Regions from separate parts of the Homo sapiens genome. Here regions 1, 3, 4 and 5 are each linked to region 2. Evidence: fine-mapped expression QTL. A gene starts in region 2. Each other region holds a variant in brackets. All regions are shown on one strand. Distances are between the middles of the regions. Region 1 has its middle 28 kb from the start of TOMM7. Region 2 holds the start of SNHG26 (small nucleolar RNA host gene 26). Region 3 overlaps STK31 (serine/threonine kinase 31). Region 4 overlaps LOC107986776 (a long non-coding RNA gene). Region 5 has its middle 56 kb from the start of STEAP1B-AS1.

What was found. PIP is the estimated chance that this variant, and not a neighbour inherited with it, causes the effect.
Region 1: its variant is fine-mapped to the expression of SNHG26 in spinal cord (GTEx, PIP above 0.99).
Region 3: its variant is fine-mapped to the expression of SNHG26 in subcutaneous fat (GTEx, PIP 0.94).
Region 4: its variant is fine-mapped to the expression of SNHG26 in whole blood (TOPMed, PIP above 0.99).
Region 5: its variant is fine-mapped to the expression of SNHG26 in whole blood (INTERVAL, PIP above 0.99).

What each region holds. Positions count from the first base shown.
Region 1 is chr7:22,792,162-22,797,268 of GRCh38, reverse strand. No RefSeq gene overlaps it. Among named protein-coding and RNA genes, the nearest start is that of TOMM7, 28 kb to the left of the region's middle. The variant C/G (reference allele first, on the strand shown) is at 2,786.
Region 2 is chr7:22,851,098-22,856,204 of GRCh38, reverse strand. It overlaps SNHG26 (small nucleolar RNA host gene 26), which reads right to left and starts at 1,965. Exons shown (of 5, transcript NR_146320.1): 1 at 1,925-1,965. RefSeq lists enhancers at 961-1,190, 982-1,593 and a silencer at 1,691-2,150.
Region 3 is chr7:23,822,689-23,827,795 of GRCh38, reverse strand. The region is part of intron 23 of STK31 (serine/threonine kinase 31); the gene reads right to left. Among named protein-coding and RNA genes, the nearest start is that of STK31, 120 kb to the right of the region's middle. The variant C/G (reference allele first, on the strand shown) is at 2,739.
Region 4 is chr7:22,877,587-22,882,693 of GRCh38, reverse strand. The region is part of intron 3 of LOC107986776 (a long non-coding RNA gene); the gene reads left to right. It also overlaps the pseudogene RPL12P10. Among named protein-coding and RNA genes, the nearest start is that of SNORD93, 24 kb to the right of the region's middle. The variant T/G (reference allele first, on the strand shown) is at 2,229.
Region 5 is chr7:22,617,057-22,622,163 of GRCh38, reverse strand. No RefSeq gene overlaps it. Among named protein-coding and RNA genes, the nearest start is that of STEAP1B-AS1, 56 kb to the right of the region's middle. The variant A/G (reference allele first, on the strand shown) is at 2,382.

The DNA.
Region 1 (5,107 bases), 59 kb after region 2:
AGTAGAGTGGGGCGCTGCTGAAAAAATACCCAAAACTGTGGAAGCGACTCTGGAACTGGGTAACAGGCAGAGGATGGAACAATTTGGAGGGTTCAGAAGAAGACAGGAAGATGTGGGAAAGTTTGGAAGTTCCTAGAGACTTGTGGAATAGCTTTGACCAAAACACTGATAATGATATGGACAATAATGTCCAGGCTGAGGTGGTCTCAGAGGGAAATGAGAAACTTGTTTGGAACTGGAGCAAAGGTGACTCTTGTTATGTTTGAGCTAAGAGACTGGTGGTATTTTGCCCCTGCCCTAGAGATTTGTGGAACTTTGAACTTGAGAGGGATGATTTAGGGTATCTGGCAGAAGAAATCTCTAAGCAGGAAAGCATCCAAGAAGTGACTTGGGTGCTGTTAAAGGTATTCAGTTTTAAAAGGGAAACAGCATAAAAGTTCAAAAAATTTGTAGCCTGACAAGGCAATAGAAAAGAAAATCCCATTTTCTGAGAAGAAATTCAACCTGGCTGCAGAAATTTGCATAAGTAATGAGGAACCAAATATTAATCACCAAGACAATGGGGAAAATATCTCCAGGGCATGTCAGAGAACTTTCTGTAGCCCCTCCCATCACAGGCCTGGAGGCCTAGGAGAAAAAAGTGGTTTCGTGGGCTGGGCCCAGCGTCCCGTGTTGTGTGGAGCCTAGGGACTTGGTGCCCTGTGTCCCATCTGCTCCAGCCATGGCTGAAAGGGGCCAACATAGAGCTCAGGCCATGGTTTCAGAGGGTGGAAGCCTCAAGCGTTGGCAGCTTTCATGTGATGTTGTGCCTGTGAGTGCACGTAAGTTAAGAATTGAGGTTTAAGGCTGGGCATGGTGGCTCACGCCTGTAATCCCAGCACTTTGGGAGGCTGAGGCAGGAGGATCACAAGGTCAGGAGATCAAGACCATCCTGGCTAACACGGTGAAACCCTGTCTCTACTAAAAAATACAAAAAAATTAGCCAAGCGTGGTGGCAGGTGCCTGTAGTCCCAGCTACTTGGGAAGCTGAGACAGGAGAATGGCGTGAACCTGGGAGGCGGAGCTTGCAGGGAGCCGAGATCGTGCCACTGCACTCCAGCCTGGGCGACAGAGCAAAGACTCCATCTCAAAAAAACAAAACAAAAAACACAAACCAAACAAACAAAAAAAGAATTGAGGTTTAAGAACCTCTGCCTAGATTTCAGAAGATCTACGGGAATGCCTGGATGCCCAGGCAGAAGTTTGTTGTAGGGATGGGTTCCTCATATGGACAGCCTCTGCTAGGGCAGTGCAGAAGGGAAATGTGGGGTGGGATCCCCCACACAGAGTCCCTACTGGGGCACCACCTAGTCGGGCTGTGAGAAGAAGGCCACCATCCTCCAGACCCCAGAATGATAGATCCACTGGCAGCTTGTACCACATGCCTGGAAAAGCCACAGATGCTCAATGCCAGTCCATGAAAGCAGCTGGGAGGGAGGCTGTATCCTGCAAAGCCACAGAGGCAGAGCTACCCGAGACCATGGGAACCTACCTCTTGCATCAGCGTGACCCGGATGTGAGACATGGAGTCAAAGGAGATCATTTTGGACCTTTAAGATTTGACTGCCCTGCTGGATTTCGGACTTGTGTGGGGCCTGTAGCCCCTTTGTTTTGACCAATGTCTCCCACTTGGAATGGGTACATTTACCCAGTGCCTGTACCTCTAAATATCTAGGAAGTAACTACCTTGCTTTTGATTTTATAGGCTCATAGGCGAAAGGGACTTGCCTTGTCTCAGATGAGACTTTGGACTGTGGACTTTTGAGTTAATGCTGAAATGAGTTAAGACTTTGGGGGACTATTGGGAAGGTGTGATTGGTTTTCAAATGTGAGGACATGAGATTTGTGATGGGCCAGGGGTGGAATGACATGGTTTGCCTGTGTCCCCACCCAAATCTCATCTTGAATTGTAACTCCCACAATTGCCATGTGTTGTGGGAGGAACCCGGTGAGAGATGATTGAATTATGGGGTCAGGTCTATCATGCATCGTTCTCATAATAGTGAATGAGTCTCATGAGATCTGATGGTTTTAAAAATGGGAGTTTCCCTATACAAGCTCTCTTTCTGCCTTCTGCCATTCATGTAAGACATGACTTGCTCCTCCTTGCCTTCCACCATGATTATGAGGCCTCCCCAGCCACATGGCACTGTAAGTCTAATTAAACCTCTTTTGTAAATTGCCCAGTCTCGGGTTTGTCTTTATCAGCTGTGTGAAAACCGACTAATACAACCACTAATAAAGAGTGAGCTATGGAAGGTCTGCAGCTCGCTGATGCTCCCTAATGCCTATTTAAGATGAGGCCACAGAAGATAGTGGACAAGAAACAACCTCAGAGGGCAAAACTAGAAGCCTCCAAAGGAGTTTCCCAGAGAGCACAACTGAAGGTCCCAGGTACTGCCTGGGAAGGAAGTCACTCTTCCTGCCCCATAAGATTTAATATTGCTGTAGACCAGTGACTATAGCAGGCTTTCCTTTCTCCCCTTTCCTGGTGGGCAGTTTCAATGTTTTAATCTTTTTTTTTTTTTTTTTTTTTTTCCTGAGACGGAGTTTCGCTCTTGTTGCCCAGGCTGGAGTGCAGTGGCGCGATCTCGGCTCACTGCAGCCTCTGCCTCCTGGGTTCAAGTGATTCTCTTGCCTCAGCCTCCTAAGTAGCTGGGATTACAGGCATGCACCACCGCACCTGGCTCATTTTGTATTTTCAGTAGAGATGGGGTTTCTCCATGTTGGTCAGGCTAGTCTCGAA[C/G]TCCTGACCTCAGGTGATCCGCCTGCCTCAGCCTCCCAAAATGCTGGAATTACAGGCGTGAGCCACTGCGCCTGGCCTCAATGTTTTAATCTTGCTCCTACTCCACCTTTGTATGTTGGGTAAGTTGGGGGCAGTTAACTCATTTTTAAGTTTTTTGATTGCTGGACCATGAGATGCTGTCTGTACCAGATGGAAGGTACATATTTCCCAGAGTTCCTGAACTTTGACCTGGATGCAGTATCTGGATGAAATTTGAGAACTGTATCCCTGGGAGAGATTCATTGTGTTCTGTATATGAGAAAGCGTGTATCAATATTTGGCAATCAAAGAAGTAGGCATGGCAGAGAATGTTAATTGCCTAACAAAAATCCATTTCTGTCGCTCTCTTGCAAAGTGTCACTTTTAGCTGGCTATGTGGCAACCAAGCTACAAGATTCCCAGGCTTGCTGTTAGATATAGCTCTATGACTAATATTTGATAATTGAGATGTAAGCAGAAGTGTTGTGTGGTACTTTGGGTAAGTCTTCCTGAAAGGGAAGTATGTTTCTTGAAATGGATGTGAAATGACTGGATGATAGCTATCTTGGATCAGGAGGAGAAAGGCCAGACTCTAGGAATGGCAGAGTGATGTATGTTTGGGAGAGTAGATCTCTGAAAACTCTAGTGAGAGCCCCTTTTGTCCATACCTTTGCTGAGTCATGTGTTATCAAACTTAATGGTCTTTCCAAACTGATGAAACATGGTGTTTTATAGATTTAGTTACTATTTTGCTTTGAGTGAGATGGAGAATCTTTTCATATATTTAAGAACCATTGTGTTTCCTTTAGCGCATTTTCTGTTGGCATGTTGGCCTTTTTCATATTGATTTATGGGTCCTTTTATTTATTTACTTTTTAAATGATAGAGAAGGGATCTTGCCATGTTGCCGAGGCTGATCTTGAACTGCTGGACTCAAGCAATCCTCCCACCTCAGCCTCCCAAAGTTCTAGGATTACAGGTGTGAGCCACCACACCCAGCCTGTAGATCCTTTTGTATTTTACAGAAATTATATCTGTGATATGATTGGTAGGTATTTTTCCAGTTTGTCGTTTGACTTTGATTAGAGCAAATTTTTTTTCCAAGCTTCTCTTGGTATATTTTGTTTTAAATTTTTATTTTATTTTATTTTTGAGACAGAGTCTTGCTCTATTGCCCAGGCTAGAATGCCCAGGCTCAAGGGATCCTCTCATTTCAGCCTCCTGAGTAACTAGGATTACAGGCACATGCCACTTCACACAGCTAAATTTTTGTGTTTTTTTGTAAATTTTTGTGTTTTTTGTAGGGATGGAGTTTTCCTGTGTTGCCCAGGCTGGTCTTGAATTCCTGGGCTCAAGGCGTCCTCCCACCTCGGCCTTCCAAAGTGTTAGGATTACAGGCGTGAGCCACTGTGCCCAACCAAGTTGTTTTTTTTTGTTTGTTTTTTTTTTTTGAGACAGAGTTTCGGTCTTGTTGCCCAGGCTGGGGTGCAATGGCATGATCCTGGCTCACCACAACCTCCGCCTCCCAAGTTCAAGCAATTCTCCTGCCTCAGCCTCCCAAGTAGCTGGGATTACAGGCATGTGCCACCACGCCCAGCTAATTTTTTTGTATTTTTAGTAGAGACGGGGTTTCTCCATGTTGGTCAGGCTGGTCTCAAACTCCTGACCTCAGGTGATCCGCCTGCCTTGGCCTCCCAAAGTGCTGGGATTACAGGCATGAGCCACTGTGCCCGGCCATAGCCACGTATTATTTTACATCCCACTCTCACCTGCTTTTTCTTATTAGAAAAAATAAGTTGCCTGGGAGAAAGGAGAATAAAAAGAGGAGTGAATGAGGGGAGTATCTCCCAAATAATATATTTAAGGTGACTGTTATTTTTTCTCTCTGTGTTTCAGTTTGGATATATTCCTCTGACCTGTCTTCAAATTAATTAATCTTGTTTTCTTTTGCACTGTGAATCCAGCTGATAAATTCTTAATTTCTGATATTGTATTTTACAAATATTGAATGTCTACTTAATTCTCTTTAAAAAAGATTCTAATTCTCTGATTTTATACTTCATCTTTTCATTCTCATTGTCAATCTTTACCCCTCTTTTCTTTAACATATTAATTATAGTTATTTTGAAGTCTTTCTAGCTAACTTCAATATCTGGATCATCTCTACCTGCTTCCATCTCTTGGCTACTAGTCACTTAAAAAGTAAAAATAAAAATAAAATTTTTTTTTTTTTTTTTAGAGATAGGGTCTTGCTCTGTCATCCAGGCTGGAGTGCAGTGGCACAATCATAGCTTACTGCAGCCT
Region 2 (5,107 bases):
TCAAAGGAAGCACTATTAAACTCGCTTACCCTGAGGCTGAGTTCAGGGGGCTGGGAAGTTTCTAGTTCTGGGCACTTGCTCAGTTTTCACAATCCTTAGACGCTAGCTCACACTGCTTCCTTGACATGGTGTCTCTCACAGTTTAAACTGAATAGTTAAAAAACAATTTGGCAGGCCGGGTGCGCTGACTCACGCCTGTAATCCCAGCACTTTGGGAGGCTGAGGCTGGCGAATCACCAGCTCAGGAGTTCAAGACCAGCCTGGCCAACAAGGTGACACCCCGTCTCTACTAAAAAATACAAACAGTTGGGCATGGTGGCGGGCACCTGTAATCCCAGCTACTCAGGAGGCTGAGGCAGGAGAATTTCTTGAACCCGGGAGGCAGAGGTTGCAGTGAGCCGAGATTGCGCCGTTGCACCACAGCCTGGGTGACAGAGCGAGTCTCCGACTCAAAAAAATAAATAAAATAAAATAAAAATAAAATGGGCTCAATAAGAATCTCTAACACCTAAAGCAATGGTAAAACAAAGCCTTACCACCGCTATCTTCCTGTGCTGTATATAGGGCTATTCGCCAGAGCTGGAGGTATTCCAGGGAGGGAAAATTGTCCATGCTCTGGGTCTATCTATAACGCTGGATAAAAGATGCCTAGAACCTAGGCTGCAAATGTACAAGCTTTCCTCATTAAAGAATGGTAAAATGGGTCCCATTTGGTTTCATCAAAAAGGCAGCAAATCTTTCACAACTGAGGAAAACAGGTGAACCACGAGCTTCACATTCCAACAGAACTGTGGTACCTATGCTAGCCACAAAGATTATTTGTTGACTCAAATGTAAATTTAGATCTTTATCAATTTTACTAAATTCGCAAAGTATCCCTTTATATAGCATTTTGTACCAGTAATGAACAATTAGTATGCTCAGCGATGCTCAGGAGAGCCGCTCCAAAAACTTACATTATTCCCCAGACAAACGTTCTCTAGGGGCAGCCTTGCGTATTTCTACACCTTAGTAGACCTAAGTTAGGCGTTCAACACCTTGTCCTGGTCCAAGCCAGAAAGAACCCAGTAGTTCAGACTTTTCCCAGGTCAGAAAACCACGAAGGGCCTCCTCACACCCTGATTAAACGTTGGAAGCGGGCCCTGTGCTGTAATAACGCTCTGGCCACTCCCAAAAAAGCGAATCTTCGGGAGGAAAGCAGGCTCCCTTATTAGGGCTCACAGCACTCCGCTCAACTTACTGTAGGCGTCGGCTCCAGCAAGACTCGTCCCTCCAAGCCTTTAAATTATCTGACTGCGGGCCAGTAGCAAATGAACGGCACTGGTGGCGGTGGGGGATGGCTGCGCGAGTGAAATGACCTCCGTGTGTTTGCTAACCCCGCTATTATACTGCCCCGCTTAGAAACTTAAAGCGCTTCAGACATCAGATCTCACTCGCTTCCCAAATAGGCTTCCGTCCGCGCGGTCACAGCCCCTGGGCAGGCAGGAGCCCCGAGTGCACCAAGAACCCAGAGACCGTCCGGGGCTCGGCGCCTCCGCCTGCGGTTGGAATTTGATCCTCAAAATGCAATCATTTAATTGAAAAAGGACTAAAAGCTGCCTGTAGGCCGAATGCGTGGACGGCAGGGACTCAGGCACGGGAGGTGACGGGCGCCTGGCGGCTTCTGCTGAGTGGGGGTGGGATCCTCGAGGAAAGGGGGCGGCCCCTTCAAGCGCACAAGGACACGGGCCGTCCTAACCCGGGACGAAGGGCCCAAGCGCCACGAGGACGCCCCCACCCCCGAGGGGCCCTAACGGAGGCTTCCCCGCGGCGCCGAGCCGAGGCCTCGGCGTGGGGGCAGCGAGAGGCGCGCCTAGGAAGCGCACGGGGTAGCCCCGGAGCCACGTGGTCGGCTCCTGCGTCCAGAAGGTCCGAGCCCACTTACCCAGTCACGCGCCGCGGCCGAAAAGGGAGGGCACTGCGGAGATCAAGTTTAAAAGGGGCCTGGGCGGGGCGGCACCAACCAAAAAGTTGCCGGAAGGCCCCTCCGGGTCCAGCACCCGCCCCGCCCGCGGGGCCCGGAGGCCCTCGCGCGCCCCCTGTCGGCGGCCCGGGCCTTCCCCGCCTTGGGCCCCCCCCCCCACCCCACACGGCCCCGGCTCCCACTTGGCCCCGGCTCCCACTTTGCCCCGGCCTCCGAGTCTGGGGAGTCTGCCCCAAACTCTCGCTGGCTGTGATGTCTCTTTACCTCGTTGAAGGTCAGAGGAAGCTCCTGCCACTCAAATAATGTTAGGTGTCTCTGGTACCCACTCCCCTCCCTTGCCTGGTGTTTCTTAAAGTCTTCAGCCACGCCCCTGGGTGCTTCTTTCAAGACTCGTCTAATTACGTAGCAGAAGACTGGCTCCCGTTAAAGGATGTGAACATTAGCGGAGGTCGGGGGTGCAAACTCATCGAAGAGGGGTTGAAGCACGGGGAGGACTCCTGGTGCCTGGAGTGCTGCATGCTTAGAATGATGGCCACGGCCCGCAAATATCTTGCCCCCAAAGCACGTCTGTGTCATTGGACTGTGAGGAGGAAGGGGAGAAGGTATTCTGACTGCAGTAAAATAAGCAGGTCTGTTGGCTGGATGCCTAAGCAGCACTACATATAGAACATGAGTGTTAAGGACTGAATTTGTCCCCACTCCCAAAGACATTGAAGACCTAACCTCCAGCACCTGTGAATGCGACCTAACTTGGAAAAACTGCGTCTTTACAGATGTGGTCAAGACGAGATCATTGGGGTGGACCCTCCTAATTCAACATGACTGATGTCCTTATCACACGGTGTCAAAATGCCACTTGAAGACAGAGACACACGAAAATGTGGCGGGACAGGGGCAGATCAGAGTGATGCAGCTGTAAGCCCAGGAATGCGGTGGATTGCCGGCCACCACCGGAGAAAGGCTAGGAAGAGGCAAGGAAGGACCCTCCCCTGCAGATTTCAGAGGGAGCTTGGTGTTTGGTTCTGCTGACACTTTGATTTTGGACTTCTAGTCACAAGAAATGTGAGACAAAACATTTCTGTTAAGTCACCGAGTGCTTTGTTAAGGCATCCCTAGGGAATTAATACAAGGACTGTGGGGACTTTCCCTCTGCCGTTCTGTGTAAAATCTGGCCATAAAGACATTATTTGACTTCCCTTGTTTGACTGTAGGTCATAAGACCCCCATTCCAGAGGGAGTCCTGTCCCATACCCAGAAGGAAAGAGTGCATGCTCAGAGAGGCCAAGAAGAATCCAGACAGACAGGCCTTGCTGGGTTTTCTCCCTCTATTAGTCTTAGATCATACACTTTTTGTCCGATCACATTTCTACGTCACTGCCCATACTTTGTTGAACCTAGGCATAAAAATGGATAATTTCCCCTGTATCTTTGGGTCTTCATTTGAAGGATCCCGGGTATACACATTAAATACATTTATATGCTTTTTCTCCAATTAATCTGCCTTTTGCAAGTTGATTTTTTAGTGAACCTTAAGAGGGCAAAGGGAAAACTTTCCATGTTGGCCCCTACAGATTGCTCAGTGCAGCAAATACTTATTGAGTGCCTATTCTATGCCAGGTGCTGTGATTGGTGTTGGAGGGTGTGAAGTTCAATGAGAAACTGCCCCTGCACTAAAGTGAGGAATATAAAATGAGATTCACCCACTGATAGAAGCCCATGAAGAGTGCCAAGGGCACAGCATAAAGCCACAAAGCCCAGCCTGCTAAGGCTACAGGAAAGGCTTCCAGAAGGAAGAGGTACCTATTAGTACAATGAGTGTAGCATGACCAGCAGGAAACTCATATGCTGCATGAAATTTAGGAGAGGAAAGAAGCAAAGAGGCCAAGAGAGTTACAGAAAAATCATAGGATAATAGAGTGCAGGGGACTTTAATAGGTCATCTAGGATTATTCTCTGGTGGGTGGAGCTGGTCTTAGGGTGTTGTCATGCAGAGTTGCCATGATGGTGCAATGTAGGCTCCATGAGAACTCTGTTTCCTTCTCTACTGAATCCCCCGAATTCAGTGTAAACGCCTAGAATATATTTAGATAAGGGGAAAAACTCCTTATCTAAATATCCTTATCAGAGGAAGAGATTATTCCCCCAAAGCAGTTCAATATTCATACCATAAAACTCTTCAAGGCTGATAATGGGGCAGTAGTGGGGTTTTATCCCAGGCGGTAGCTTCCTTGGGTCACCTTGAGTGTGAATTTATTCCTGTATTCCCAGTACCTGGCCTAGGGCTTTGCACATTGTAAATGCTTGATAAAACCTACTGAATTTCCTTTTCTTGCTGTCCATTTGACTTGTCTTTCACACATGTGGTGAACTACAGATATTCCCTGACTTACAATGGTTTGATTTATGTTTTTTTTTTTTTTTTTTACTTTGTGATGGTGCAAAAGCAATACGTAGCTCAGTAGAAAGTGTGCTTCAAGTATCCGTACAACCATTCTGTTTTTCACTTTCGGTACAGTGTTCAATAAATTACATGAGATATTCAACACTTTATTCTAAAATAGGTTTTGTGTTCAATTGTTTTGTCTAACTGTAGTGTAATGTAAGTGTCCTGAGCACATGTGAAGTAGACTAGGCTAATGGGATAATAGTAGACTGGGATGTTCGGTAGGTAGGTGTATTAAATGCACTTTCAACTTACCATATTTTGAACTCACAGTGGGGTTATCAGAACATAAATCCATTATAAGCTAAGGAGCATCTATGCTTGGAGAGTAGGAATCCCAGGGCATTGGGAGGCGTTGTGCACTTCCCTGGCTTGTTTTGCTGCTGTTAGTGGGGAGCCTTTTCCCCCAGTCCCATGCTTTTCTGTAGAGGAGCTTCTCCCAGACAATGCCCCGGGCCTTTTACTCATTCTTTCCTCATTCCTTTCCAGAGAAGGAAGGAATTTCAATACAATTCTGTGCCAACATGAATGCTGAAATCATGCAAACTGTGGTGGTCCTGTTGGCTTCCATCCTCTGCCTGTCACCTGTTTTCAAGGTGGACAGGTGCAGACTATTATTTCCTCTGTGGGACTAGGGGAAATGGGTGTGGTGAACTGCACCCAGCCATTTTTGTGTTTTTTCGATGGTCAAAGTGGAATTA
Region 3 (5,107 bases), 970 kb before region 2:
ACAAACAGAAAGGACATCCACACCAAAAACCCATCTGTACGTCACCATCATCAAAGACCAAAGGTAGATAAAACCACAAAGATGGGGAAAAAACAGAGCAGAAAAACCGGAAACTCTAAAAATCAGAGCCTCTCCTCCGACAAAGGAACGCAGCTCCTCACCAGCAACTGAACAAAGCTGGACAGAGAATGACTTTGACGAGTTGAGAGAGGAAGGCTTCAGAAGATCAAACTACTCCAAGCTAAAGGAGGAAGTTCGAACCAATGGCAAAGAAGTTAAAAACTTTGAAAAAAATAAGACAAATGGATAACTAGAATAACCAATGCAGAGAAGTCCTTAAAGGACCTCATGGAGCTGAAAACCATGGCACGAGAAATACATGACGAATGCACAAGACTCAGTAACCGACGCGATCAACTGGAAGAAAGGGTATCAGTGACGGAAGATGAAATGAATGAAATGAAGTGTGAAGAGAAGTTTAGAGAAAAAAGAATAAAAAGAAATGAACAAAGCCTCCAAGAAATATGGGACTACGTGAAAAGACCAAATCTACGTCTAATTGGTGTACCTCAAAGTGACGAAGAGAATGGAACCAAGTTGGAAAACACTCTTCAGCATATTATCCAGGAGAACTTCCCCAACCTAGCAAGGCAGGCCAACATTCAAATTCAGGAAATACAGAGAATGCCACAAAGATACTCCTCAAGAAGAGCAACTCCAAGACACATAATTGTCAGATTCACCAAAGTTGAAATGAAGGAAAAAATGTTAACGGCAGCCAGAGTTTAGAAAGGTCGGGTAACCCACAAAGGGAAGCCCATCAGACTAACAGTGAATCTCTCAGCAGAAACTCTACAAGCCAGAAGAGAGTGGGGGCCAATATTCAACATTCTTAAAGAAAAGAATTTTCAACCCAGAATTTCATATCCAGCCAAACTAAGCTTCATAAATGAAGGAGAAATAAAATACTTTACAGACAAGCAAATGCTGAGAGATTTTGTCACCACCAGACCTGCCCTAAAAGAGCTCGTGAAGGAAGCACTAAACATGGAACAACAGGTACCAGCCACTGCAAAAACATGCCAAATTGTAAAGACCATCAAGGCTAGGAAGAAACTGCATCAACTAACAAGCAAAATAACCAGCTAACATCATAATGACAGGATCAAATTCACACATAACAATATTAATCTTAAATGTAAATGGGCTAAATGCTTCAATTAAAAGGCACAGACTGGCAAACTGGATAAAGAGTCAAGACCCATCAGTGTGCTGTATTCAGGAAACCCATCTCACGTGCAGAGACACACATAGGCTCAAAATAAAGGGATGGAGGAAGATCTGCCAAGCAAATGGAAAACAAAAAAAGGCAGGGGTTGCAATCCTAGTCTCAGATAAAACAGACTTTAAACCAACAAAGATCAAAAGAGACAAAGAAGGCCATTACATAATGTTAAAGGGATCAATTCAACAAGAAGAACTAACTATCCTAAATATATATGCACCCAATACAGGAGGACCCAGATTCATAAAGCAAGTCCTGAGTGACCTACAAAGAGACTTAGGCTCCCACACAATAATAATGGGAGACTTTAACACCCCACTGTCAACATTAGGCAGACCAACAAGACAGAAAGTTAACAAGGATATCCAGGAATTGAACTCAGCTCTGCACCAAGAGGACCTAATAGACATCTACAGAACTCTCCACCCCAAATCAACAGAATATACATTCTTTTCAGCACCACACCACACCTATTCCAAAATTGACCACATACTTGGAAGTAAAGCTCTCCTCAGCAAATGTAAAAGAACATAAATTATAACAAACTGTCTCTCAGACCACAGTGCAATGAACTAGAACTCAGGATTAAGAAACTCACTCAAAACCACTCAACTACATGGAAACTGAACAACCTGCTCCTGAATGACTACTGAGCACATAACGAAATGAAGGCAGAAATAAAGATGTTCTTTGAAACCAACGAGAACAAAGACACAACATACCAGAATCTCTGGGACACATTCAAAGCAGTGTGTAGAGGGAAATGTATAGCACTAAATGCCCATAAGAGAAAGCAGGAAAGATCTAAAATTGACACCCTAACATCACAATTAAAAGAACTAGAGGAGCAAGAGCAAACACCTTCAAAAGCTAGCAGAAGGCAAGAAATAACTAAGATTAGAGCAGAACTGAAGTACATATAGACACAAAAAACCCTTCAAAAAATCAATGAATCCAGGAGCTGGTTTTTTGAAAAGATCAACAAAATTGATAAACTGCTAGCAAGACTAATAAAGAAGAAAAGAGAGAAGAATCAAATAGATGCAATAAAAAATGACAAAGGGGATATCACCAGTGATCCCACAGAAATACAAACTACCATCAGAGAATACTATAAACACCTCTACGCAAATAAACTAGAAAATCTAGAAGAAATGGTTGAATTCCTCGACACATACACACTCCCAAGACTAAGCCAGGAAGAAGTTGAATCTCTGAATAGACCAATAACAGGCTCTGAAATTGAGGCAATAATTAACAGCTTACCAACCAAAAAAAGTCCAGGACCAGATGGATTCACAGCTAAATTCTACCAGAGGTAAAAGGAGGAGCTGGTACCATTCCTTCTGAAACTATTCCAATCAATAGAAAAAGAGGGAATCCTCCCTAACTCATTTTATGAGGCCAGCATCATCCTGATACCAAAGCCGGGCAGAGACACAACCAAAAAAGA[C/G]AATTTTAGACCAATATTCTTGATGAACATTGATGCAAAAATCCTCAATAAAATACTGGCAAACCGAATCCAGCAACACATCAAAAAGCTTACCCACCATGATCAAGTGGGCTTCATCCCTGGGATGCAAGGCTGGTTCAACATATGAAAATCAATAAACGTAATCCAGCATATAAACAGAACCAAAGACAAAAACCACATGATTATCTCAATAGATGCAGAAAAGGCCTTTGACAAAATTCAACAACGCTTCATGCTAAAGACTCTCAATAAATTAGGTATTGATGGGATGTATCTTAAAATAATAAGAGGTATCTATGACAAACCCACAGCCAATATCATACTGAATGTACAAAAACTGGAAGCATTCCCTTTGAAAACTGGCACAAGACAGGGATGCCCTCTCTCACCACTCCTATTCAACATAGTGTTGGAAGTTCTGGCCAGGGCAATCAGGCAGGAGAAGGAAGAAAGGGCATTCAATTAGGAAAAGAGGAAGTCCAATTGTCCCTGTTTGCAGATGACATGATTGTATATCTAGAAAACCCCATCATCTCAGCCCAAAATCTCCTTAAGCTGATAAGCAACTTCAGCAAAGTCTCAGGATACAAAATCAATGTGCAAAAATCACAAGCATTCTTATACACCAATAACAAACAAACAGAGAGTCAAATCATCAGTGAACTCCCATTCACAATTGCTTCAAAGAGAATAAAATACCTAAGAATCCAACTTACAAGGGATGTGAAGGACCTCTCCAAGGAGAACTACAAACCACTGCTCAATGAAGTAAAAGAGGATACAAAGAAATGGAAGAACATTCCATGCTCATGGGTAGGAAGAATCAATATCGAGAAAATGGCCATACTGCCCAAGGTAATTTATAGATTCAATGCCATCCCCATCGAGCTACCAATGACTTTCTTCACAGAATTGGAAAAAACTACTTTAAAGTTCATATGGAACCAACAAAGAGCCCGCATTGCCAAGTCAATCCTAAGCCAAAAGAACAAAGCTGGAGGCATCACGCTACCTGACTTCAAACTATACTACAAGGCTACAGTAACCAAAATAGCATGATACTGGTACCAAAACAGAGACATAGACCAATGGAACAGAACAGAGGCCTCAGAAATAATACCACACACCTACAACTACCTGATCTTTGACAAACCTGACAAAAACAAGCAATGGGGAAAGGATTCCCTATTTAATAAATGGTGCTGGGACCACTGGCTAGCCGTATATAGAAAGCTGAAACTGGATCCCTTCCTTACACCTTATACAAAAATTAATTCAAGATGGATTAAAGACTTACATGTTAGACCTAAAACTATAAAAACCCTAGAAGAATAACTAGGCAATACCATTCAGGACATAGGCATGGACAAGGACTTCATGTCTAAAACACCAAAAGCAATGGCAACAAAAGTCAAAATTGACAAATGGGATCTAATTAAACTAAAGAGCTTCTGCACAGCAAAAGAAACCACCATCAGAGTGAACAAGCAACCTACAAAATGGGAGAAAATTTTTGCAACCTACTCATCTGACAAAGGGCTAATATCCAGAATCTACAATGAACTCAAACAAATTTACAAGAAAAAAACAAACAACCCCATCAAAAAGTGGATGAAGGATATGAACAGACACTTCTCAAAAGAAGACATTTATGCAGCCAAAAAACACATGAAAAAATGCTCATCATCACTGGCCATCAGAGAAATGCAAATCAAAACCACAATGAGATACCATCTCACACCAGTTAGAATGGTGATCATTAAAAAGTCAGGAAACAACAGGTGCTGGAGATGATGTGGAGAAACAGGAACACTTTTACACTGTTGGTGGGACTGTAAACTAGTTCAACCATTGTGGAAGTCGGTGTGGCAATTCCTCAGGGATCTAGAACTAGAAATACCATTTGACCCAGCCATCCCATTACTGGGTATATACCCAAATGATTATAAATCATGCTGCTATAAAGACACATGCACACATACGTTTATTGCGGCACTATTCACAATAGCAAAGACTTGAAACCAACCCAAATGTCCAACAATGATAGGCTGGATTAAGAAAATGTGGCACATATACACCATGGAATACTATGCAGCCATAAAAAAGGATGAGTTCATGTCCTTTGTAGGGACATGGATGAAGCTGGAAACCATCATTCTCAGCAAACTATCGCAAGGACAAAAAACCGAACACCACATATTCTCACTCACAGGTGGGAACTGAACAATGAGAACACATGGACACAGGAAGGGGAACATCACATACCGGGGACTGTTGTGGGGTGGTGGGAGGGACAGCATTAGGAGATACACCTAATGCTAAATGACGAGTTAATGGGTGCAGCACAC
Region 4 (5,107 bases), 26 kb before region 2:
AGAGATGAGCACTCAGAACTGACAGCTGGATTGCACCCTGTGGGGGGTAATTGATGACCTTGTGAGGAGTAGATATGTTGAGAGATGGGGATGAAAGTTGTTCACAGTGGGTTGAGGGAGAATTGAAGCAAGAACAAATGATCCTTTCAAGATATAAAGGTGAGTAGAGAGCTGGGGTAGTAGCCAAGAGAAGAACAGGGAGGCCAAGAGAAAGTTATTGTTGCTGTTTTTGTTTTTTTGTGTTTTTTTTTTTTTGTTTGTTTTTCAAATGATCCTTTATTGAAATATTTTCCTTTGTGCTTCTTAATTAGCTGGGCATTCCACAGCACCACCGTTGATGTCATCTATGATATCATGAGGGTGGCAGCCATCAACATTGCAGCCCACAGACTGGGGAGTCCCCAGGATCTCTTTAATGATTCCAGAGAGTTCTCTGGCTAAAGATCGGTGCCACATGTGTTGAGCAACATTGACAATCTCATCAAAAGTGATATTTCCACTGTGTTTAATGTTTTTCTGTTTCTTTCTGTCTCTTGGCGGTTCCTTGAGGGCTTTGATGATCAGGGCAGAGGCAGAAGTCACCACCTCAATCTGGGCCTCTCTGTTCTAAATGATCAGTTTCACTGTAATCCTCAGATCCTTTCAGTCACCAGTTGCTTTAGCAATGTCATCACCAACCTTTTCTGAAGACAGACCTAGGGGGCTGATCTTGGGGGCCAACACAGACGTGGCACCCACTTCATCCCCAGTACACCTTAGGTATGTGACTTTGATCTCATTGGGGTAGAACTTCGGCAGCATGGCAGAGGTGGCTAGATTCAGGACGACCCAAGAAAGTTGCACCTTGGCCTCCTCCCAGCTGAAAGCTGAAAGCCTTGTTGCTGTTTTTTGAAGAGATTCTTGGAATAACAGCTTGTTTGTAAGACCTAGTAAAGAGAACGTTTGAGGACACATGAGCAGGGGGGAAGAAAGACTGGAGGGAAGAGGGATGTGGGGGGGAATTGGTCTGTGCCAGGAGCCTGGAGACAGGAGGAGTGGCAGAGCCCAGGGCCTGGGTGCAGGCAGGGGGGCAGGTGTGGGGATGAGAGCTCAAGGAAGTCCTCTCCCATGCTTTTTAGATCTTTAGTGACACAGGAAACACAGTCATCAGTGCAGAGTGAGTGTGGGAGAATTTTCAGGAGAGAAGAGAGGTCATTTAGGGAAGTGGGAATGTCAGTGGACACGAGAAATGCAGTCCAATGGCAGCCCAGCCCAAGGACCAACCTGGTGCTGAGACTTTGAAGGGAGACTAGCCAGTGAGGAGTGATCTTCTCCTGGCCAGACCCTCTACCCAGACTGGGCCAGATGGAAGATCCTGACACATTCCAGAGAATTCCTGCTGTGGCAGGCTAGCTCCCAAGAAGCTCTTTCCACCAGCCGATGGGCCAGTGGGGTTGGCTTGAGCAGACTGTGGTTCCAGCACTTTAATGCAGTTTCTGTCACTGGAGGATTTGTCCAGTGCTGGGGTGTGGAGTGACAGCAAAACCCTGATGCCTCAGGCATGGCTGAAGTGCTGAAGCACAGAGGGTGCACCTGGGGAGAGGCCACAGGGTTGGTGACCTCTGCGGGTGTGAATGACCCCAGGCACTGTTTCAGTGTTGGGGTGGGTGGCTGGGTAGTGCTCCTGTGTCAGGGGTTGACATGTCCAGAGTCAATGTCCTTCCTCAGTGCCATATGCCAACCTTTAGGTTCCAGAGGGCCTTTTGAGTGACCTGCCATGGTTCCTCCATGACTAGCTTCTGGGGTGATGGGGTGGCACCTCACCCTGTCTAAGCTGAAACTTATCACACTGGGTTGTAATTCATGGTCTATTTGCTGTTATCCCTGGGCTGTAAGTGTAAGAACCCTCTCCAACTTTCTTACCACTTTATCCCCAATGCCTGGCAAAATACCTAAATACATGAATACATACAAGAGGGCAGGTGAGAAGGAAGGATGGGAGGAAGGAAGAGGGAAGGAAGGAAAAAAGAAGGGAAAGAAAAGAAAGGAAGGGAGGAGGGGAGGAAGGAAGGAAAGGGTAGATATGGAATCCCTGCCACTATAGCAGGGCTATTCTGCTGAGGGTTGCAATGATGGATCTGAATCAGTGGTAGCCTCCATAGGGGATGTGGCGATGAGGTAGGGTAGAAGGCAGTGGGTGCCATAAAGAGGGCTTTCAGCAGGGCTCTCTAAAACCAGGAAGACACACA[T/G]GAGATTGCAGGGCATAACCAGGAAGACTGGGATGCCACTGCCTGGCCAGATGGGGGTCTGATCCACTCTCCTAAATGACCTCTCTTCTCTCCTGAAAACTTTCCCACACTCACTCTGCACTGATAACTGTGTTTCCTGTGGCACTAAAGATCTAAATCAGAACCGCATTTCTGACCCCCATTTATGACCCCCATTTCTGATGGGCATCAGAAAGGTGAAAATAAGGAGTGATGGTCAGGATGGGCAAGAGGAAGCAGGAAAGGAGTCCTGGCAAGTAGCTGAGACAGGCCCTGGCCCCCAGCTCTGTGGGGAAGGTGCAGGGTGAGTGTGTTGAAAGGCTGGAGAGGAGGCCGCCTGCAGCTGGGAATCCACAGAGGGCTGTATTAGTCCATTTTCACACTGCTGATAAAGACATACCTGAGACTGGGAAGAAAAAGAGGTTTAATTGGACTTACAGTTCCACATGGCTAGGGAGGCCTCAGAGTCATGGTGGGAGGTGAAAGGCTCATCTTACATGGTGGCGGCAAGAGAAAATGAGGAAGAAGCAAACGCAGAAACCCCTAATAAACCCATGAGATCTTGTGAGACTTATTCACTACCACAAGCATAGCGCAGGAAAGACTGGCCCCCGTGATTCAATTACCTCCCCCTGGGTCCTTCCCACAACACGTGGAAATTCTGGGAGATACAATTTGAGATTTGGATGGGGACACAGCCAAGCCATATCAGGGCACAGCAGCTTTGGTGATCCACCGCTCCTTCCTGCTCCTCCCAGGTAAAGGGGAGTCTCTCTCCAGACTTGATTCATCCCTTCCCTTTCTTATTCCTCTCCGACTTTCGCACCTTCCACCCCAACCTCTGGATTTTGTCTGCAGTTATCCTTTCTCTTTTCAATAGGCCTCTGTACCCACTGTTCTCCCAACCTGGAGAGCTGTCTCTACCCCTAATCCTCACTTGCTAGTTCAGTTCCTTCTTGGCCCTCAGATTTTGCCGTGGGGCAACTTCCTGCCATTTTTACATACTTTCATTGCATTCTGGGCTACTTCCTTTATGGCACATATATCAATGGAAATGCCTTGCTTATTTCTCTATTTCTAGACTTAAGAAAAGGGATACAGGTGGATATTTCCCTAGCGGTCCCTCAGTGACAAATGAATGAAGACAACTTTGTCAAAAGAAAACAAAATCCCTGAGAATCCCCTAACTTGGTGCCTGTATTTTTATCCAGCACTGGTGTACTCTCTAAAAGCAAATTCATGCTAAACAGCATTTTACTCTTTCTGATTAGCTGGCAAAATTTGCTCCAAATAAATAATGTATATATATTTATTGTTTAATAATGCTCGTGGTTTAAATACATGTGTTTTAGGAGCAACTTTGATTTACCTCATGAGTCCAAGATTTTTTATTTTTATAAGTTGTGCCTTATGAATGTGGGTAAGAGAGGAATCAAAATGAAATTAATCTTTTATCTTTGGATGGTTAAGAGAACTGCAATATTAAGGACATTAGGATGTCTCAAAATATTAGATGCAAAAATGTGTATTTTTGTTTAAATATGTTTGAATTATCAAATATAGAACAAATAGAGGAAGGTGGCTGGGTGTAGTGGCTCATTCCTGTAATCCCAGCATTTTGGGAGGCCAAGGTGGGCTGATCACTTGAGGTCAGGAGTTCAAGACCAGCCTGGCCAACATGGTGAAACCCCCGTCTCTAATTTATTTATTTATTTATTTATTTATTTGAGATGGAGTCTCACTCTGTCACGCAGGCTGGAGTGCAGTGGCGCTATCTTGGCTCACTGGAACCTCTGCCTCCCAAGTTCAAGCGATTCTCCTGCCTCAGCCTCCAGAGTAGCTGGGACTACAGGTGCACGCCTCCACGCCTGGCTAATTTTTTATATTTTTAGTAGAGATGGGGTTTCACCATATTAGCCAGGATGGCCTCGATCTCCTGACCTCATGATCCACCTGCCTCAGCCTCCGAAAGTGCTGGGACTACAGGTGTGAGCCACAGTGCCCGGCCAACCCCATCTCTATTAAAAATACAAAAATTAGCTGGGTGTGGTGGCGCATGACTGTAATCCCAGCTACTCAGGAAGCTGAGGCAGAAGAATCACTTGAACCCAGGAGGTGGAGGTTGCAGCAAGCTGAGATCATGCCACTGCCCTCCAGCCTGGGCGACAAGGGTACTCCATCTAAAAAAAAAAAAGCAGGTACATAAAAACATATGTGTTGGAATAAATATAATAAATAATTATAAAGGCTGGGTGTGGTTGCTCACACTTGTAATCTCAACACTTTGGGAGGCTGAGGTGGGAGTATTGCTTGAGCCCAGGAGACCAGCCTGGGCAACATAGTGAGACCCCATCTTTTTTATACATAAAAAAAAAATAACTGGGCATCCTGGTGCATGCCTGTAGTCCTGGCTACTTGGGAGGCTTGAGGTGGGAGGATCTCTTGAGCCTGGGAAGTTGAGGCTGCAGTGAGCTATGATTGCACCATTGCACTCAGCCTGGGAGAACGCGTGAGATCCAGTCTCAACATAATAATGATAATAATTTGTATATTATTTTATAAAATTTTTATTTTATTATTATTATTGTAGGAATACTTTGAAGCCTAAGATGGTGGCATCTTCCTTTAGAGATAACTTTAACTAGCTTCTACCAGATGCATAGTGGACACTAGTCATTTGGTAACACTTTAATCCATGTTCAAGGTTTGAGATTTCCTGGCCCATTGGGATGAGGCAGAACTGGACTACAAGTCCATGTGAGGGTCAGTTTACTTCAGGTTTACCCTTGCTTACATTTAGGATGTAATTACATGGGAATCTCAGCTTAAAATGGGAACTGGTTTATCTCAGTCCCCATCTT
Region 5 (5,107 bases), 230 kb after region 2:
GGTCGGTTCCCCCTTCTTGAGACATGTTCTTCTCTAGGCTTCTGTGCTACGCATTTATCTGGACTCCTTCAACTCTACTGGCCATTTCTCATCTGCTAGCTCTTCCTCCTTCATCAGACCCCCATCCTTGGCCTCTTCTTTTCTTTGTCAACGTTCTCTTTCTAGGCACTTTTACCCAGTCCAGGGACTTCACTGGACAGTGCAGATGTAAAACATTTCCATCCCTGAAGAAAGTTTGATTGTTCAGTGCTGGTGTAAAAAAAGAAAACAAAATGCCCTGTCTATTAAATGAAGCATACTTAAATCAGAAGCAATAAAAATAAAGAAAAATCAGGGACATCTGTGTGTGTGTGTATATGTGTGTACGTTTGTGTATATGTGTGTGTATGCATATGTGTGTGTCTGTACGTATGTATGTGCATGTGTCTATGTGTACGTGTGTATGTGTGTCCATATGTGTCTGTGTGTACGTGTGTGTGTGTGTGTGTTCATTAAGGAAAACACTTCTTTTGGTTGTGACAGAAAATTCAGCCCAAATTCTCATAAAAGAAAAGAATGTATTGGCTGATAGATGCTGAAAAGTTGAAAGATCCAGGGGAGCTTCAGGCACAACTTAAATTAGGGCTTAGCCAATGTCCCCAGGATTCCTCTCTCTGCTCCCCATCCTCTGAGCAGCTCCACTTTTAGCTCTATTGACTCCTCATATATAAAATATGTAAATATGTTTATATACATATGAATATATACATTTATGCAATCTATTTATATATATGTATATATGTGTGTATATATACATATATAAAGAGATTTATTATAAAGAATTGGCTCCCATGATTATGGAAGCTGACAAATGTCAAGATCTGCAGAGTGAGTCAGAAATCTAAAGACCCAGGAGAGCTCATGGTGCAAGTCCAAAGTCCAAGTCTGAAGGCCGGAGAACTGATGGTGTAGTTGCAGTCCAAAGGACCCAGGAAGAGCCACTGTTTCAGTCTGAAGATACTCAGACAGGAGGAATTCCATCTTACTTGGGAGAGGGTCAACCATTTTGTTCTAGTCAGGACTTCAACTGAAGGGTGAGGCCCACCCACATGAGGGGGACAATCTGCTTTACTCAGCCTACTGATTCAAATGACAATCTCATCCAAAAACATCGTCACAGAAACACTCAGAATAATGTTTGACCATCCCGTGGCCCAGTCAAATTGATATATAAAATTAACCATCATGGTTTCATTGGACCTCATTTGTCCAAGGTGCTTTTTGACCGCTAAAGCCCAAATACAGGGTCGTCTATATATGGGTTGTGAATAGAGGTAAGATAGTCCCTACACAGGAGAATTTGAGGACTATTGCCCAAGAAGATAAGTGGAAGCTAGGGGCAATAAACAAGTGTCTACTACAAGCTGCAGATTTGAAAGTTAAAGTGAGAACGGAACCAAAAAAATGTTGAGTGACTGCTATAAACTAGGCACTGTCCTAAGCACTTTATATTACCACTGAGCTGATGGACTTATTGAAAAAGTTTGCTTGCAGCTTTTTCTTCCCCTGTAGATTTACAATGTAAAAATTCACATCCCTTATCCCCAACCCACAATAAGAAAAACTAGGATTATGTTTCTAAAGGTGTGAACTCTCCTTGCCCCCTTGGGGAGTAAACGCTTTTTAAAATGTAATGTTTCTGGTCAAGAAAGCAAATTTGCTGGGAGGTTGTAGGCCACTTTGGAGACAACTCTAAGAACACTTGTCTTCTTTTTTTTCTTCCCTTTTAGACTAAATTCCTGATTTACCTAGCCAAAGATTAAAAAACACAGTAAAGTGAAGAGGAAGAGTTTGTGTAAGATCGATATTATTTATTTCTTAAATACGTGTAAAGATTCACCATTGAAGCCCTTGTGAAAAGAGTTTTAATTTCTTTCAATTCCTTTAATAGATATAAACTATTCAACTCCATAGACATAGAACAATTCAATAGGTAGATTCAATTTCTTTAACAGATATAGAACTGTTGAGATTTTCTATTTCTTCTTGTGTCCATTTTGGAGTTTATTTTTAAACAATATTTTATCTATTTTATCTCAATTTTTAAAATTAAGTGACACACGATTGTTTATTAAATGTCTGTAGTGATGATTTTCCTTTTATTCCTGATATTGATAATTTGTGTTTTCTCTCCCTCTTTTTCTTGATCAGCATTAATAAGGACTTATAAATTGTATTACTATTTTCAAAGAACTAACTTTTGGCTTTGTTTGCTTTCCCTGTAATATGTTTTTTAATCTATTAATTCTGCTCATTAATATTTTTTCTTCTGTTTTCCTTGGATTAAATTTGTCTGAATTAGGCTTATTGATTTTCAGTCTTTCTTTTTTCTCTCATCTTAA[A/G]TATTCATTTGCATTTGGAACTGTAAATTTCCTTTTTGGCATCACTGTTTAATATGTCACTTTTATTGTTATTTTGCTCATATTTTCTAATTTTATTTGATTTTTTGATCCTTGAGTTATTTAGAAGTATGTTGCATAATTTCCAAATATTTCGGAGATTTTCTAATTATCGTTCTCTGATTTATTTATATTTTAATTCTATTGTAGTCAGAGAACATATTACATATAATTTGAATCCTTTGAAAAAAAAGTTAAGACTTCCTCTTAGGCTAACATACAGTGTATTTGGCAATGTCTGCTATTAGCACAATGACATCAGCTATCTTTTGGTTAGTGTCAAGGTGATATATCATTTACCATCTTTTCATTCTCACCCTTTCTGTGTCTCTCTATATAGTAATTATTGTCTGTAACATGTAGTCAAGTTTTAAAAATTTAATCTAACAATCTTTAAAAAAAATGTTATTGTTTGGCTTATTCATATGGAATGGAATTACTGATATAGTTGGGTTTAAGTCCACTATCTTGCTATTTATTTTTTATCAGTTCATCTGTTCTTTGCTCATTTATTCTTCTTTTCTAGTCTTCTTTTGGATTAATCAAGCATATTTTATTATTTCATTTCTCTACTTACTATATGGTTAGTAATAAATTATGTTATTATTTTATGATTTCTCTGGAGACCATAATATGCATTCTTGACATAATACTCTTCCTCTGGCCTTTGTGATATTGTCACATATTTTGTTTATATGTTATAATTTCAACAAGACATTATTATTCTTGTTACATGAAACAATAATATTTTATTTTTACCCACATATTTACATTTTCTGAAGCTCTTTATTTCTTCTTTCAGTTTCATGCCTTTATATGATTGCTTTAAATTTTTTCTTTAATTGATTTTGTGGTGAAGATCTGTTAAAAATTCATTTTCATTTGGATGAAAATTTCTTTACTTTTCCTTCATTTTTGAATGATATTTTAAATAAGCATAAAGTTCTAAATTGACAATCTTTTATTTCAGCACTCTGAGATATTGTCCCATTATCTCCTGGCTTTCATAATTTATGTTGAAAAGTCAGCCATTCATTTTATTGTTGCTCCTTTGAAGTTAATGTATTTTTTCCCTCTGGGTACTTTTAAGGCTTCTTTTAATTCTTGATTATTAGAAGTTTGACAAAAATATGTCTAACTGTTGTTTTCCTTTTATTTATCTTGCTTAGAATTTGATGAGCTTCTTGAATCTGTTGAGTAATGTCTTATCAACTTTGGAAACATTTTGGCTGTTGTTTCCACAAATACTGCTTCTGCTCCCATTTATTTCTCCTTTTATTCCGGAACTTTAAATAAATATGGTATACCTTTTAACTATCTCGTATGCTCAGTTTTCTTTTTATACGTTCTTTTCATCTGTGCTTGGATTTGTATATTTTCTATAATCCTATCTTAAAGTCTAATAATTTTGTCTACTTCTCTGTCCAGTCTGCTGTTAAATGCACCTAATGTGTTTTTAAACTCAGGTGTTATATTTGTCAGTTAGAGAATGTACATTTGATTCTTTTACAAAGATTTAAATCTTTCTATATTCATTATCATTGCATCCATTTCCCCCATTTTCTTCTGTTTCATGTAGTATATTAATGAGTTTTTTAATAAAGTTCTCATCTGCCAGCTTCAATATTTGGCTTATCTGTGGGTCTGCTTCTATTGTTTATCTTTTCTCTTGATTATAATGATCAGTCACATTTTTTCTGCTTCTCTGCATGTCTAGTAATTTTTTTATTATAAACCAGACAATATAAATAGAAGCACTGCAGAGGCTCCAGTTGATGCCCTATACTAGAAAGGGCTTCCACATTCCTCTTTGGAAACACTCTTAGGATGAAGGTTTTATCTTCGAGCTGAATAGGGGCTAAGTTGCAGCTTTAGTAAGACTTAGTCCACTTCTGGTTTTTTTCTGTTCCTCAAACATAGCTATTCTGGACTTTTGATTACAGCCTGCAGGAATTCTGTCTTCTCAGTTCTGAAAGATTGTGGGGAATTTAGTGCTGTACGTTAGAGGTTTTGAACTTAGCTCTTTAGCCTTGCACCCCTTGCCCCATTACAGCTTCAAAATCTGGAAGATGTCCTAAACAGGGTGGCTGGCTGTGTGTTTGAATGGCAAGACTTCTTCCTTTAATTAGACTTTTTCCCCTTAGCACCATGAAACTAGAGGAGATTTTATTATGACTTTTTGAAGTCTTTAAACAAATGTCCCAGCCTTCTTTGCATAGCCCCTGAACCCAGAAGATGTCCCGGGGGAAAACCAGCTATGTGTTTAGCACTTACCAAATTTCTGGTTTCTCCCACCAGCCCCACGTGACTGCCAAAAACCTCTCTGGTTTCTCTTTCCCCAAGTAGATTCCTTCTTTATAAGTCAAGTCAAATTCTTAGTCCATGCCCAGAATTGTAAAATGTCCCCAGGGAAGAAAACAATTGGTGATTTATGTAGCCTTCATTGCTTCCTCATTTTCTGAGATTCTTAAAAATGTGACTTTCTTAATTTATCTGGTTCTTTATAATTGTTGCAATGGGAATTCTAGTCTGCTACGATCTTACTACGTTTTATTCAGGAACAGAAGTCCCCTGATCTTTATGTTTTAAGAGTAAAAGCCCACTAATATGGGTACGACTTCAAAGATTGAAAAGGGCTATGGCCTGCTTTCAGTACTTGGATTCCTGGA